2 linked regions of the Homo sapiens genome follow. The protein of the gene in region 2 purifies or fractionates together with the protein of the main gene of each other region. This does not show direct contact. Each region holds a gene or a part of one and is shown on either strand. Other genes may lie near its edges.

Region 1 (5,434 bases), on a different chromosome or scaffold from region 2:
CAGGGTACCGCTGCCACTGGGACCACTAGGGGTGGTAAGCAGTCAAAAAATTAAGGCAAATCCTCCCGGCACCGGAGCCTCATGGGAAATGTTTATTAAGAGTTTGGTTCCTGGCCGGACACAGTGGCTCACGCCTGTAATCCCAGCACTTTGGGAGGCCGAGGCAGGCAGATCATGATGTCAGGAGTTTGAGACCAGCCTGACCAACATGGTGAAACCCTGTCTCTAAAAATACAAAAATTAGCTGGGCGCAGTGGTGCACGCCTGCAGTCCCAGCTACTCGGGAGACTGAGGCAGGAGAATCGCTTGAACCCGGGAAGTAGAGGTTGCAGTGAGCCGAGATCGTGCCACTGCACTCCAGCCTGGGAGACAGAGTGAGACTCCGTCTCAAAAAAAAAAAAAAAAAAAAAAGGTTTGGTTCCTGCCACCACATCAGTGGTTGCTGCCTCACTGACATTGTGGGATCTTCACCCCGTTCCCTTGGACTTGACCTTGAAAAAGTGGTTTGATGCCGACTTTTATTAGGTATGAAGACCCACGAGGAGAGTTTTGCCCCTCTGATAAGGAGACCGGGTGGCCTTTAGCGCAGATATCTAGAGAGACGATGCGGAATTACTTGGCATCTACTCAAGAGCCCAGGCGAAGGCTACTCCTGGAAGGGGACCGCGCTTACGGAGGCCTGGCTGACCTCCACCCGTGACCGGTGCGGCGCTCCTGAGACTGGCGCTCTCCAGGGGCGAAGGTGGCCGCGTCTCTATGATGCAATATCCTGCGTTTTTCCCACCCTCGCACCGCTGCCCCAGGCCATCGGCACTTTCTCTGCGGCCCGATGTCCTCCCCTGCCGCGGCCCGCGCTTCCACCAGCGTGCCCGCCGCCGCCGGCCCTACGCCCGAGGTCACCGTGGCGGCCCGCGTCTCCTTCTCCAGTTCGTCCTGGTCCAGCAGCGGCGGCCCCGCTTAAGTCCCGGGCGCCAATAGGGTCCGAAGGCGCCACCGCTGAGACGCACGCGGCCCCTGCCGTGGCCATAGCACTGTCGCCAGCGCCTGAACCAACACCGCTCCGCACCGGCTCTGGCGCCAGCCCCAGTCCTGCCTCGGTGAAGGATCCGCCCGGGGCGCCTGCAGCGCGCTGAGCCCAGGGGCGCCGCTCGGTACACGCCGCACCGCTCCCGAGGCCGATTGCAACGAGGGAAGTCACCCAGCTGAGGTGTCCCGATCTGTGCATTCGAGTGGTGTGGGGGTGAAGCCGCTGAGAAGCGGTCCGCAGGATCCAGTTCAGGCCGGCCTTTGGCCAGCGCAACCGGGAAACTAGCTCTCTCTCCGAGAACCTCCTAACCATGTGCGGACCAGGAACTACACTTCCCAGGATGCAGCCCGAGGAGTCCCGGCATCCCCCGGCCATGACAGCCAAGGACGTGGTCAGACCGGGGTCGGTGGGAGCAGGACAGGCGGCTCCGCGACGACCACCACGCTCTCCCCTTCAGGCCCAGTCCGGGATCCCTGCCGGCCGTTAAGTCTGAGCCCTCCCAGGCTCACACCAAGCCAGCAAAGTGCTGCTCAGCTGCTGCAGCTAAAATCGGGGGACTACATTTGGGGTGCGCGGCCTGGCTACTCTGGCTGCAGGCCGAGGGTTGAACGTTTATTCATCACAATTAACAGCCTATACAAGCATCTCTAGAACAGAGGCTGTGGGTCCAAACGGGTCCCTGCAGCTCCAACCCTCTGGCCTCTCCGGGCACTGCCCTCACAGCCGATGGAGCATGGCTGGGCAGGCAGACAGGACACAGGCTCAGTCACAGGGTGTCAGGGGGAAGCTCTTCTAGCTGGAATGATTGGAAGTTGGCCCAGCGGCTGGGGCTGGTCTGTCCCTTCCCCTCCTGGGAAGTTCCACCTCCACTGTAGTTAAGGCCACCAGGATGAAAGCAGGGTTAGGTCCAGGGACCCAGTAGAGCCTTGGGATGCATGAGGTGGGGGTAAATGGGCTTGGCAGAGAAATGGAGATTGGGAAGGGGCCTGATTAGAATAGAAACTGATGATGTTGGTTCAGCACCTGCAAGATGAGGAAGGTGACTGCAGCAACCTTAGAGCTTCCCAAAGGAAGCAAGTGATGCCCCCATCTGCCAAGAGGGTACCTCCTTCAGCCCTTGGCACAAGAGCCAGACCAAGGTGTCCAGGGAACTCCACAGGACAGAAGCCCTGCCGAGGTTAGGGGGATGGTGGGTGAAGGAAAGTCTTCCTGGGGCCTGCAGCCCAGTCTCAAACAAGGAACAAGGACATGGCTCACTGGTCCTCATTTGTGAGCCAGTAGGCAGGGAGCGAGCCTTCTCTAGGGTAGATCACAGCCTGGGGAATTTTCCTTAGGGTTAGGATGCATCCACGGAGACAGACAGGTTAGGGCCAGTTTCCGGGAAGCTCAGTCAAGTGCTCTGGGCTCCTCAGGCCTCTCAGGCAGACCTTTTCTGTAGGGCAGTGCCCCCTAGGCTGCAGCTCTGACCTTTAGGAAAAGATGGAACGAAGCTTGGCTGATCCCATGCCCACTAGCATGCACCAGGGTCCCCAAACCAACTAGATGGGCAGGGGCTGGGCCCATGGGGTCCGGAATGGAGGGTGGGGCCACTAGACCTGGGGTGGGGAGGAGATGGGGGCACAGCCCCCAGGGTCCATGGTGTTCCAGAGTCCCCTGAGTTTCAGGTTCAGCTGATGTAGATACGATGGAAGTCGTGGGCACCAAAGGCCGCGTTGCACTTGGGGCACTTCCTCTGGCGGGCCTCATAGCGGCCCCGCACGCACTCGAAGCAGAAAACGTGGAAGCACTTGGTAAGGACTGCATCCTTCTTGCGGGTGTTACAGCAGGGGCAGGTCAACCGCGCCTGGGCCAGGCAAAGGCATCAGCTTGGGAACAACTCTGACAGTGCCCAGACCCCAAGCTGACAGCAGGAGGAGTCCAGGCCAAGCCCACCACACTGGAGACTGCACCTCATCCTCCCATAACCCTGGAGGTAAGGACGAGCACTCTATGAATGAGCAAACTGAGGTGCAGAGGCCAAGGTCTCAACACTAGAAATCAGCAGAGTCCGGATTCATCACTGGGCAGTGATGGCTATCATGTGTCCCCTCAAAAGGACAAGGACCCACAGGCCCAGCCTGGACTCTGCCTTGGGGCTTCATCTCCTGCCCCACTGGCCGCCTCTGGTGAAATCCCAATCTTGTCTACCTCTTCACCTGCACTTGCTAAGTCACAGCTGGAATGGCAATGCAACTAGAAATCTGTTCTCTCTACCCTCAACTGGGCCCAGCCTCGACACTGGCCAGAGACCCTGCCGTGGGTCCCTTCTTAGCCTGAGACCTCTCTTCCGCCACCAGGAGGGTCTCACCTCCAACTCCAGACATGGATTGACTCAACTCAGCATCCCCCAACAGTGCTCCTCCAGCCTGCTAAAATCCCAGCCCAGCCTGCCGCCTCAGCAGCCTCCCTGCCATCACTCCTGTCTCCCAGGACCCTACACACCAGCACTGAACAGGCTCCCAAGCCTGCCTCTACCCCATGGCTGCCTCCAGCTGCCTCTGCCCTTCAAGGCTCAACTGCTTCCAAGGGATGACCAAGTCATATGTGGCTTCCACCTCTGCCTCTACTGACATTCCCCAAGCCTGTTCTCCAGCCCGGCCCTTTTGCCTTGAGCACCTTCCCAGCCTCCCAAAGGGGTCCCACAGGCACCTTCTCAGCATCCTTTGACACCATCCCATAGAACCTGCTCCCCCGCAGGCCTCCTAACCCCCTAAATGGTACTAACTATCCACCTAGTTTCTCAAACCAGGAAACCAGGAGTCCTCCAAGTGTTCCCTTTCCCTCACTCCATGCATTCGATCCACCCCCGAGTCCAAGCAATTCTGCCTCTGAAATGTCTCCTGAACCCATCTACTCTGGTTTCTGCCTCAGTGACTGCAATACCTTAACAATTTCCCTGCCTCCAGTCTACCTCTTCCAGCCCAAAACCAACAACAAATCTAACCACATCACTCTCCTGTTTAAAACCCTTTGAGGTCTCAACCTGGCGTACCGCACTCTTCAGGAGGTGACACGGCCCAACCTCTCCACATTGGCTCCTCTGATTACAACCTCCGGTGCTGTCCCAGCAACCCCTCCGCTCAAGCGTCCACATCTGCTGTTCCCTTTGCCTAAAGCTACTCACTCCCGTTCCTCACAGCCACGTCTGGCCTATTCTTCAGGTCTGCTGTGGTGACATTCACTCCAGGAAGCCTGCTGACCCCAGGGCCAGGGGAAGGGCCTCCCCTGAGTCCCCTCAGCCCCTCTGGCCTCTGCCATCATATTACACATCTGGGATGAGAGAATTACTTGGCTGCCTCCTCCCCTGACTGTCAGTTTCAAGAAGTCAGAGACCAGGGCCAGTTCCTAGCCTCCCAACCCACACCCAGCCAAGCACTGTGCCTGGCTCACAGTACATGTACAGCAAACAGCATTTGACTCTGTGACCACTGTGCTGCCCACTTTCTGCTGCCCTACATTACTTCCAGGGTCCCCAGACTCTCCACTAGTCTCAGCAATCCTGCATCTACAATTCTCAGGTGGATAGGGCACAACTTGGCCCACAGCCCCACCTTGTACTCCTTGATCTCCTCCTGGAGGATTTCGTCGGCATCTGCGTAGACCTCCACCTTCCTCTGCTTTTCCAGCTTGCGCCGCAGCCGTGAGATGTCCTCCTGGGGCAGGAGAGGCCTGGCTAAGGGCAAGGGTCCTCAACCTTGAGCCGCTTGCCCCCAGGATAGGTCCGTGACCGTGGACCACCCTGGCCTGGCCCCTCACCCCTGCACACACCTGAGCCCTCTTGAGGTTGAAGCTCTCTTTCTCACGAGCAGCCCGGCTCTCTGCCAGGCAGGGCTGGATCTCCCGCAGCCGAGTCTGCACGTGCTCCAGCTGCACCTTCAGGTCCTCGGCCAGCTGGGCGGCTTCTACAGCCTGAGTAGGGTGGAACAGGAAGGAGGCACTGGTCTGAGCCTGGTGACTCAGGCATGTGGAGTCACGGCCCACCAATGCTTCTGTCCAGGGCCCCAGTGACACCTGCCCTGGAGCTGCTCCTGCCTCCTGAGCCCTAAGCCCTCCCCTCCTGTTCTCCCTCTCCAGTTCCTCCCGTGTGATGCTGTTTTTTGGGGTTTCTTTGTTTTTTGTTTTTTTGAGACGGAGTCTTACTCTGTCCCCCACGCTGGAGTCCAGTGACACGATCTCAGCTCACTGCAACCTCCGACTCCTGGGTTCACACCATTCTCCTGCCTCAGCCTCCCGAGTAGCTGGGACTATAGGCGCCCACCACCACACCCAGCTAATTTTTTGTATTTTTAGTAGAGATGGGGTTTCACCGTGTTAGCCAGGATGGTCTAGATCTCCTGACCTCATGATCTGCCCGCCTCGGCCTCCCAA
Region 2 (8,896 bases):
TGCAGATAATGACTGTCTCATGGTAACTCGGGTAACTAACTTCCATACCTAGGCAAGTATAAAGATTTATTTCATTCTGTGTAAGTACTACAGTTTCTCTTTATTTGTAAGCAGTGAATGATTTTTATCTAAAAACTGATTTTCTAGAGATGAAAATAAGTTACACAAGTGTGAGATGAAGAGAAACATACTTTATGATGTATTTAGTTCTAGACTTTATATTGAGAAGTAAATCAAAATTAATACGAGAGTAATACCTTTTTAAAAAGCAAGAAGAAGGTAGCACTGATTTGTATAAGGAATAAAGCAGTCTCAAAATGATATTTGTTGATCTGTGTTTCAATTTCAACAAGAGATCAGAAAAACACGAACAAAATTTAGAGTTTAGGAACTATAGGAAAGAGATAAATGAACTAGAATTGTATCGCTTAGGATGAATTAAAAACAATTTTCAGATACATGGTGGTTTCTTCTGATGAGACAAAAAGATAATTTGCTTAAGGTACATATGAGTATTTTAGGAACATATTTAAGGAATGGTAGTTAATGAGTTACAAAGAAAATTATGGGTTATAAAATACTCTCTTTGGAAAAAAAGTTTTTGAAACAGAGTCTCGCTGTGTCGCCCAGGCTAGAGTACAGTGCGTGGTCTCGGCTCACCGCAACCACCTCCAGGGTTCAAGTGATCCTCCCACCTCAGCCTCCGCAGTAGCTGGGCCTGCAGGCACATGCCACCACGCCCAGCTAATTTTTTATTTTTAGTAGAGACAGGGTTTCCCCATGTTACCCGGGTTGGTCTCGAACTCCTGGCCTCAAGTGATCTGCCTACCTTGGCCTCCCAGAGGGCCGGGATTACAGGTGTGAACCACCTGCAAAATTTCTGGCCTGGAAATTTTTAAAGAAATGGGCCTATTATGAGTAAGTAAAACATAACCACAAATCATCCAAAGCACTGCTTCGTTTCCACCATTTTTATTAAATGTTATTCATCTGCCAATCATTTTCAGTAATTTTTATGTGTGATTATGTTAAGTGGTAATGTGTAGTTAACTTTTGCAGTTTAGCAAAACATTGCATGCCATTTTTGTATAAACCCTAATAACTGTAGTAGGTAACTTTACAGAGTAAGTAATTTGTGTGTGAAGTCATTTAAAATCTCTGTGACATTTTCATTTCAATAATTGCCAAAGAATCTGATCAGTGAAGTTTTAGACAAGAGACATTGATTTCAGTTTTTAGAGCTTTCTGTCCATTCCGACTTTTACTTAGAAATCTTTGAGGCTTAATTTTATTTGATCCCTTATGTTCGTGCAACTTTGAAACTAAAAGAAAATAACCTTATACTCACAAATCCCTTAATAATGAAAAGGAACACTATTACTCAACATGAATTTCAAAATATTTAGTGTATACTTAAAGAAATTTTTATATTACTATTACTTTTAAAATTAGTTTCAGTAGTGCCAGGGTGTTTACGACCAGAGTAGGGTATATACTACATCATTTATAGGAAATGAAACTAAAAGGAAAAACTTCTTCAGTCTTGGTAAATTGGTGAAAACAAGGACAGAGATAGTGACCTTAAGGCATGTTTCACATCTTAGATGCTTAAAAATCTAGGAAAGCAACTTTTCTTAATTTAAGCCTTTTTCGTAAGTTTTTAAATGACTTCTGTTAGTGAGTCCAGGGTTAATGTACCCTAATAGTCCAGGAAGGTCCAGAGCTAGTCAATGATTTCGTTTATCTGTTTTGTGAAATTAAGGCTTTTTTTCCTAAATTATACCATTTTCCTGTTAGCACATATAAGGCATTAAATGACCTTTTTGCAAAATGGTTTTGTGACAGTTAACAATTTTGCTTCTACGTAAGTGTAACAAGATAAAATCAGTTTGTCAGGCCATGACCTGTAATATTACATTTAAAAACACTATGTGCCAGGTACTGTTATAAATGCATATTGACTTATTTACTCATCACCATATTACCACAATTCTGGGAATCGGTGTTATTCACATTTGACAAAATAGGAATCATAGGCTCAAAAAGGTTTTCACATAGTGGTATAGCTGGGATTTGAACCCAAGTAGTTTAGGTCTTTGGTTTGTGCCCTTAAAGCACTGTACCACATTGCCTCTGATTTTATTTAAAAAAATTTTTTCTAGAGACAGAGTCTCGCTTCATCACCCAGGCTGGAGTGTAGTGGCATAGTCATAGCTCACTGTAGCTTCAAACTCCTTGGCTCAAGCAATTTTCCTGCCTCAGCCTCTGAAATAGCTGGAACTACAGGTGTGCGCCACCACACCCAGCTAATTTTTAAAGTTTTTGTGGAGACGGGATCTTACTGTGTTGCCTAGACTGGTTTGAAACTCCTGACCTCAAATGATCCTCTGACTTCAGCCTCGCAAGTATTAATAGCTGGGATTACAGGTGTGAACCCCTATGCCCAGCCTCTGTCTCTTATTTTAAAGATTCATTTTTTAAAAAGTAGATTCACTTTAAAAAGAAAAGAACCTATTTTTCTTTTTAAAGGAAGTCTATTTTATATTTAGTAGCAGAATTCTACCATTTGCCTCTTGTGACTGTTCAGTTTAGATATGATAGAACATGTAGGAAATCTTAACACCTTGCTTCTGGATATTAAAACATGCTTAAAGATTGATAGGTGAATAATTGAATGTACAGAGCAAATGTCATTTTGATCCACAAGTACATTCAGACAAAAAAATTTGAGGTCATTTACTATTGAGCTTTTGAATTTTAATTGTCTATCAATAATCATAAGCTCTTATTAGAGATGATATGGCCCCTTCACATATAGTTTTACAGAAATAACCCATGAAGCATATAGTAAGATCTTGTAGGCTATTTTGTTTCGGTACTTGGTCCATATTTTAAAAGTATGGTATTGGTTTACTATAAGCCACAAATACATACGGCTTTCTTCTTGGACTTAAATCCATATGAACCACTCAGCACAGAAAATGCAAATATGAATGCATTATTATGTTCACCAACTGATTTTTTCCCTAGAGATAACTCTTAAAGAATTTTTGAAGTGAAAGAACATTTAAATTAAGATAGTGGAAGATACAATGATAATAAAACAGTCAATTTTGCTATCTTAGTCTTGAATTTATCTTATGATGTGAGTTTAGAGTGATTCTTCTTTTTTTCACTGAAAATCACTTCATTAATAAGTCATGATTATTGACAAAAGTAAATTGAAACCATTGGGCATATTGGTAGGGAAATAAGGGGAAGATAGAGAACAACTGATAAAGGTTGATTATGTGCATTACGAGATTTGATCCTCAAAAGAAGGACCAAAATATATATATTTATATGACTTATAGATGAGGAATCTGAGAGAAATTAATTTGCTTGCTCATAGTTTACTACCAGCGGACATTTATTAAATGCTTAGTCTGTCGCAGCCACTATTTTAAATGCTTTACACTTACATAGCCTTTAAAGTACATGCTCTTATTACACTTCATTTTATCTTTGATGATTTCAGAGCTGGTTTAAATACCTGGTTTATAAAGATTTAAAGTACTAGATACTATCTAATACTAAGAATAGATCCTTAGTATTAAAAATGGTTTTATGCTGTCACTACTCGAATGTAATTCAAACAATATTTCATTAAACCATGGGAATTTCTCTTTTTTCTTAGTCCTTGTATAGAATTTTTCAACAATTACTAAATACTTTTTTTCTTCCCTGAGTAATGTCAGTCTAGCTTGTTTCTTTTAATTTCCTCACTTACCACTGTAATTCACATTCTGTGTCTCATATTCATTCCTCTGAAGCCACTTCGCCAGACTCGTTCTCCCATTTATCCTTTAAACAGGGGAATGTAGATCCTTTAGATTTTATCACCCAGTTTACACAAAAGTCACTATTCAAGAAATCTAGCATAAGCCTAGTAAGTAGCCTCAGTTTTGGATACAGATTAAAATTATTTGAGGGAAGGGTCAAAAATGGCTCCTTACAAAGAAGGAAATAAGTTCCAATTATAATATAAAACAGAAAACCCCTGTAGGATTAACCTGCATTTGATTATGTCTAGACTGCCTTTACTACTTCCATCACTAAGATTCTACATGGTTTCCTTATAGCTCTCCAAAAAGAAAAGAGTAATGATGCCTTTTTTTCCTCCAAGGAATGGAGAACTAAGAATGCTAACTGTCCCTTCCATTCTCCCTTTAGTTTTGAGAAGACCCAGATATTAGCGTGGTAATTCCCCACCATAAGAGAAAATCATTTAGCAGAAGTACCAGTAGCAAGGACTTCTTTGTGAAGGAAGTCAAAGATCTCACAAAGAAGTTCAAGGGTGGCTCTGAGGCCAGGGTATTCTAAGTTTAGAGCCAGTTAAATCAAGACCTGAGAACATTTAGAGACAAAGTTACTTAACTGAAAAGAGCATCAAGTTCCTTGTTCCAGGTAGAAAACACCTGGTAATCTGGATTGATTTCTGTTATTTACCCATATGTTTTTACAGCTTAACAAAGTTTAACAGGTTAGTCAAGAGATTTGCCTTTGATAAAAAGATGGGAAATTTATATTCATACATTTGAATGGATTTCAAGCTGAAGAACTTTTTAATTCTCAGGAGAGATGTAGCTAAGTATTTATATGTACCACATAGTTGTGGCTATGGTTTACAATAACTTATTACTCATTTACTATGTTAAGAGCATTTTAAAAGTTCTCTAGATACAGGTTCCATATATAATGTAATATATTTATTCCAAATATATTACATATATGAAATACATGGTAGTATTCTCATTTTACCAGTACAGAAACTGGGATAGTTAAATGTATATGGTCATAACACTTAGTCAGTGGTAGAGCAGGAGGTCTAACTTAAAGCTTGCATTTTAAATTCTAAGTGTACTGCCTGCCTATGTGTGATAGAGCCATACCCAGATTATGGAAGCAACTTTTTGAAAGACAAATACTTGAAAGTATTAAAATCAAGAAATGACAGCTTTGTAATACTTGTTAAACACATTTTCATTTGTTATTAATATCAAGAGCCTCTAGAATTTTGTGAGTCTTCTTGTTTTAGCCTTGTAGTCTCAGCAGTCTCATTTCTAATTAACATATCTCTGTTTTGATACAGATAGTGTCTCCCATTTCCTGCAAATTATTTGCTTTTTCCTGCTTTTGGGGCCTTTATGCCCCATTTCTGTTGTTTCAGATACTTCTTAAAAATTACTGACTTTCATTTCAAAACCTAGTTCAAAGTCAGTCTCTAAAACCACCTCTAATCTCATCCAAATTTGTGGCCCCTCCATTCTTTGCTTTTAAAATATATATGTATATATAAAACAGCTTTATTGTGATGCTATTCACATACCTTACAATTTGCCCACTTAAAGTGGACAGTTCACTGGGTTTTAGTATACTCGAAAGAGTTGTGCAGCCATGACCATAATCAATTTTGGAATCCAAAAAGGAACCTCATACCCATTAATAGTCACCTCCCATTTCTCTCCCAAACTCCTCTGTTCTAGGCAGCTACTAATCTATTTTCTGTCTTTATATATTTGCCTATTCTGGATATTTTATATAAATGGAATCGTATAGTATGTGCGATTTTTGCATCTTGCTTCTTTTACTTAGCATACATGTTTTCTAGGTTCATGCATGTTATAGCATATATCAATGTTTATTTTTACTGCTGAATGATACAGTCATGAGTCACTTAATGACAAGGATAACTTCTGAGAAATGTATGGTTAGGCAATTTTGTCGTTGTGTGAACATCTTAAGGGGGTACTTACACAAATCTAGATGGGATTGCCTACTACATACCTAGGATGTATTGCCTATTGCTCCTAGGCAAAAAAAACCTGTACAACATGTTACTGTAGTGCATACTGTAGTCAATTCTAATACAATGGTAAGTATATATATATGTGTGTGTGTATAAATATATATATGTGTGTGTGTGTATATATATATATCTAAACATAGAAAAGGTAGAGTAAAAATACAATATTATGATCTTTTTTGTTTTTAGAGACAGGGTCTGGCTCTGTCACCCAGACTGAAATGCAGTAGCCCAATATTGGCTCACATTGCCCTTGATCTCCTGGGCTCAAGCAATTCCACTGCCTCATCCTCCCAATTAGCTAGGACTACAGGCAAGCACCACTGTGTCTATTTTTTATTTTTATTTTTTTGTAGAAATGAGGATCTTGCTGTGTTGCCCAGGCTGGTCTTGAACTCCTGGCCTCAAGCACTCCTCCCACCTTAGTCTTCCAAAGTGTTGGGATTATAGGCATGAGCCACTGTGTCTAGCCAGACATAATGTGTCTGTTATTGACCTAAATGTTGTTATGTGGTATGTGACCATATTCCATTGTATAGATATAACACATTTGATATATCCATTTATCAATTGATAGACATTTGAATTTCCAATTTTTGCCTATTTTGAATAATCCTGCTATGAACATCCATTACAAGTTTTCATTTCTCGTGTATATACCTGTAAGTGGAATTGCTAGGTCCCTGTTTAACTTTTTAAGGAACTGCTAGACTGTTTTTCTAAGTGGCCGTAATTTTACATTGCCACCAGCAGTGTATGAGGGTTCCAGTTTTTTCACCTCGTCAGCACTTATGTTCTTTTTTTTAATATATAGCCATCTTAGTGGATATGAAGTAGTATCTCATTGTAGTTTTGATTTGCATTTTCTTGATAGGTAATGATGTTGAGTATCTTTTCACCTGCTTATTGGCCATTTGTATGTCTTTTGGATGTCTGTCCAGATTCTTTGCCCATTTAAAAAATTTGGTTATTTTGTCTTTTTATTATTGCATTGTAAAAGTTCTCTAGATACAGGTTCCTTATTAAATAGTTAATTTACAAATTTTTCTCCCATTCTGTGGATTTTCTTTTTACTTTCTTGGTAGTGTCCACTGAAACATGGAAGTTTTTATTTTATTGAAATTCAATTTGCCTGTTTTTTCCTTTGTCACTTTTGCTTTTGGTATCATGTCTAAGAAGGCTTGGCTTAACTCAAGGTCATGAGGATTTACTCATATATTTTCTTTTCCAAGTTTTGTAGTTCTGGCTCTTACATTTAAGTCTGTAATTCAATCGAGTTAATTTTTTGTGTATATGGTCAGGGGAGGAGTTCAATTTCATTCTTTTGCATGTGGTTATCCAGTTGTCCCAAAACTATTTGTCAAAAAGATCATTCTTTTCCCTGTGCAATTATCTTGGTACCCTGCTTGAAAATCAATTGACTGTAAAAGTGAGGGTTTATTTCTAGATTCTATATTTGATTGACATATACCAGTACCAGATTATAACTGTGTAGACAGTTTTAAAATCTGGAACTGTGTCCTCCAACAACTTTTCAAGTTTGTTTTGGCCCTCTTCTCTTATTAGTTTACACTATGTTGAAATGTTGTTTTGTAAATATTCTTAAATATGTGTATTTCATTACTCCGTATAAATGACACACTCATCTTTTTGCAGCCTGTCTTCTTACCTTCTCTCATTCGAAATCTACCCCATCTCTTTATTTCTTAGAGGTATGTGGTATAGTAGTATTTGCAGTGAATGTTTTGTGTCATTTAACCCATGGATCTCTCTTCCACTCCTAATCTCATGCCCCAAAAGCACAAACAATGCGCTGTCTTAAGAACATAGATAAGTGTGCTAATTATCAAAAACACATTTACAGTACCTGGAAAATGTAAGACAACACCCTCAGCAGATGAAAATGACCTGGCATCCTAAAAGGAGGCTAAACTCACATTAATCCTTCAAATGAAAAAATCGTCACATCATACCCTTTAAATAATGCTTTAAAACATTCAAAATTATTTATGAATAATTATTTATGAGTCTTTGTGGAAATGCAGTTATGCAAGAAAAGTATAAAAATATTCATGGAATGATAAATGCTAAATCAGAGTAAGGGTATTCCAAGAGAGGGGCCCACAAGGGGCTATATTAATATTTATGATAATTTTCTTTAGGTGCTTGTTTTGATGGTATGTATATAGATGCTCGTTATTATTCGAAGTTTAATGTATGCCTTTATATGATACAAAATACTTTTAAAAAGCGAAGTTGATTGTAAGAGCTTTTTATTTTGAGGAAGTCCCAATTTTTCTTAGTTTTTTCTGTTTATTATTTTTATATTGTTAATACCAAACCTAATTCTCCCGGTGTAGAAAAGTTACACAGAGCTGAGAGAATTTATGTAGAGTCAAGCATTATTAATTATCATTTCCTTCTTGCTTCATATATGCTTATCACGCTTATATGTCACATATGGTTACAAGATATCTTTAGTATGGAGAGACATACACATTTAAGATATTAATGGTCATGTATGTGTATTCTGGATGAATAGTTTAAAAACAATCTTACTTGGCCTCCTTGAGTTTCTTATTTGTCTTAGTTTAGATCTAAAAAGAGATCATAAAAATTATTTATTGCTAGGTGATGGATTTAATGTGTGGAGAAGAAAATAGGTTAGAAGTGCATGGAATCTAAAAATTAAGCTATAAAGAGATGGTAAACTATTCCATTGGTTTATTTGAGTGAATTTCATAGTTTTATTTGTTTCAGTTTTACTGAAACCATGAAATTCTGAGTCTTAGTTTGTGGTACTTAAAAAAAAAGTCAGTGAAATATCTGATTTATAATAATTTAAAATACTAGATGCTGCCAGTATCTCCTTAGTGTTGAAAATTGTTTTATGCTATCACTACTCAAATATAATTTAAGCATTTTGTTAAATAAGAGAATTAGTCATAAGAGTGAATTAGTATCCAGAATTGTTTATGCCATTCTGCACAAGATGATTATAAATATTTTTCTGAGATTAAGTGTGCTACATTGGATTAGGCTGAGATTTTT

The links. The genes of interacting proteins can lie anywhere in the genome.
Region 1: the proteins of USP15 (region 2) and RNF40 purify together in Homo sapiens (affinity purification with mass spectrometry; 4 studies listed by BioGRID and IntAct, with this or other methods). This does not show direct contact.

What each region holds. Positions count from the first base shown.
Region 1 is NC_000016.10:30,771,374-30,776,807, reverse strand, and holds the end of RNF40 (E3 ubiquitin-protein ligase BRE1B), read right to left. Parts: intron 4,976-5,434; coding exon 4,835-4,975; intron 4,720-4,834; coding exon 4,618-4,719; intron 2,871-4,617; coding exon 2,694-2,870; 3' UTR 501-2,693; downstream 1-500.
Region 2 is NC_000012.12:62,263,404-62,272,299, forward strand, and holds part of USP15 (ubiquitin carboxyl-terminal hydrolase 15), read left to right. Parts: intron 1-8,896. UniProt on the Homo sapiens protein: Hydrolase that removes conjugated ubiquitin from target proteins and regulates various pathways such as the TGF-beta receptor signaling, NF-kappa-B and RNF41/NRDP1-PRKN pathways.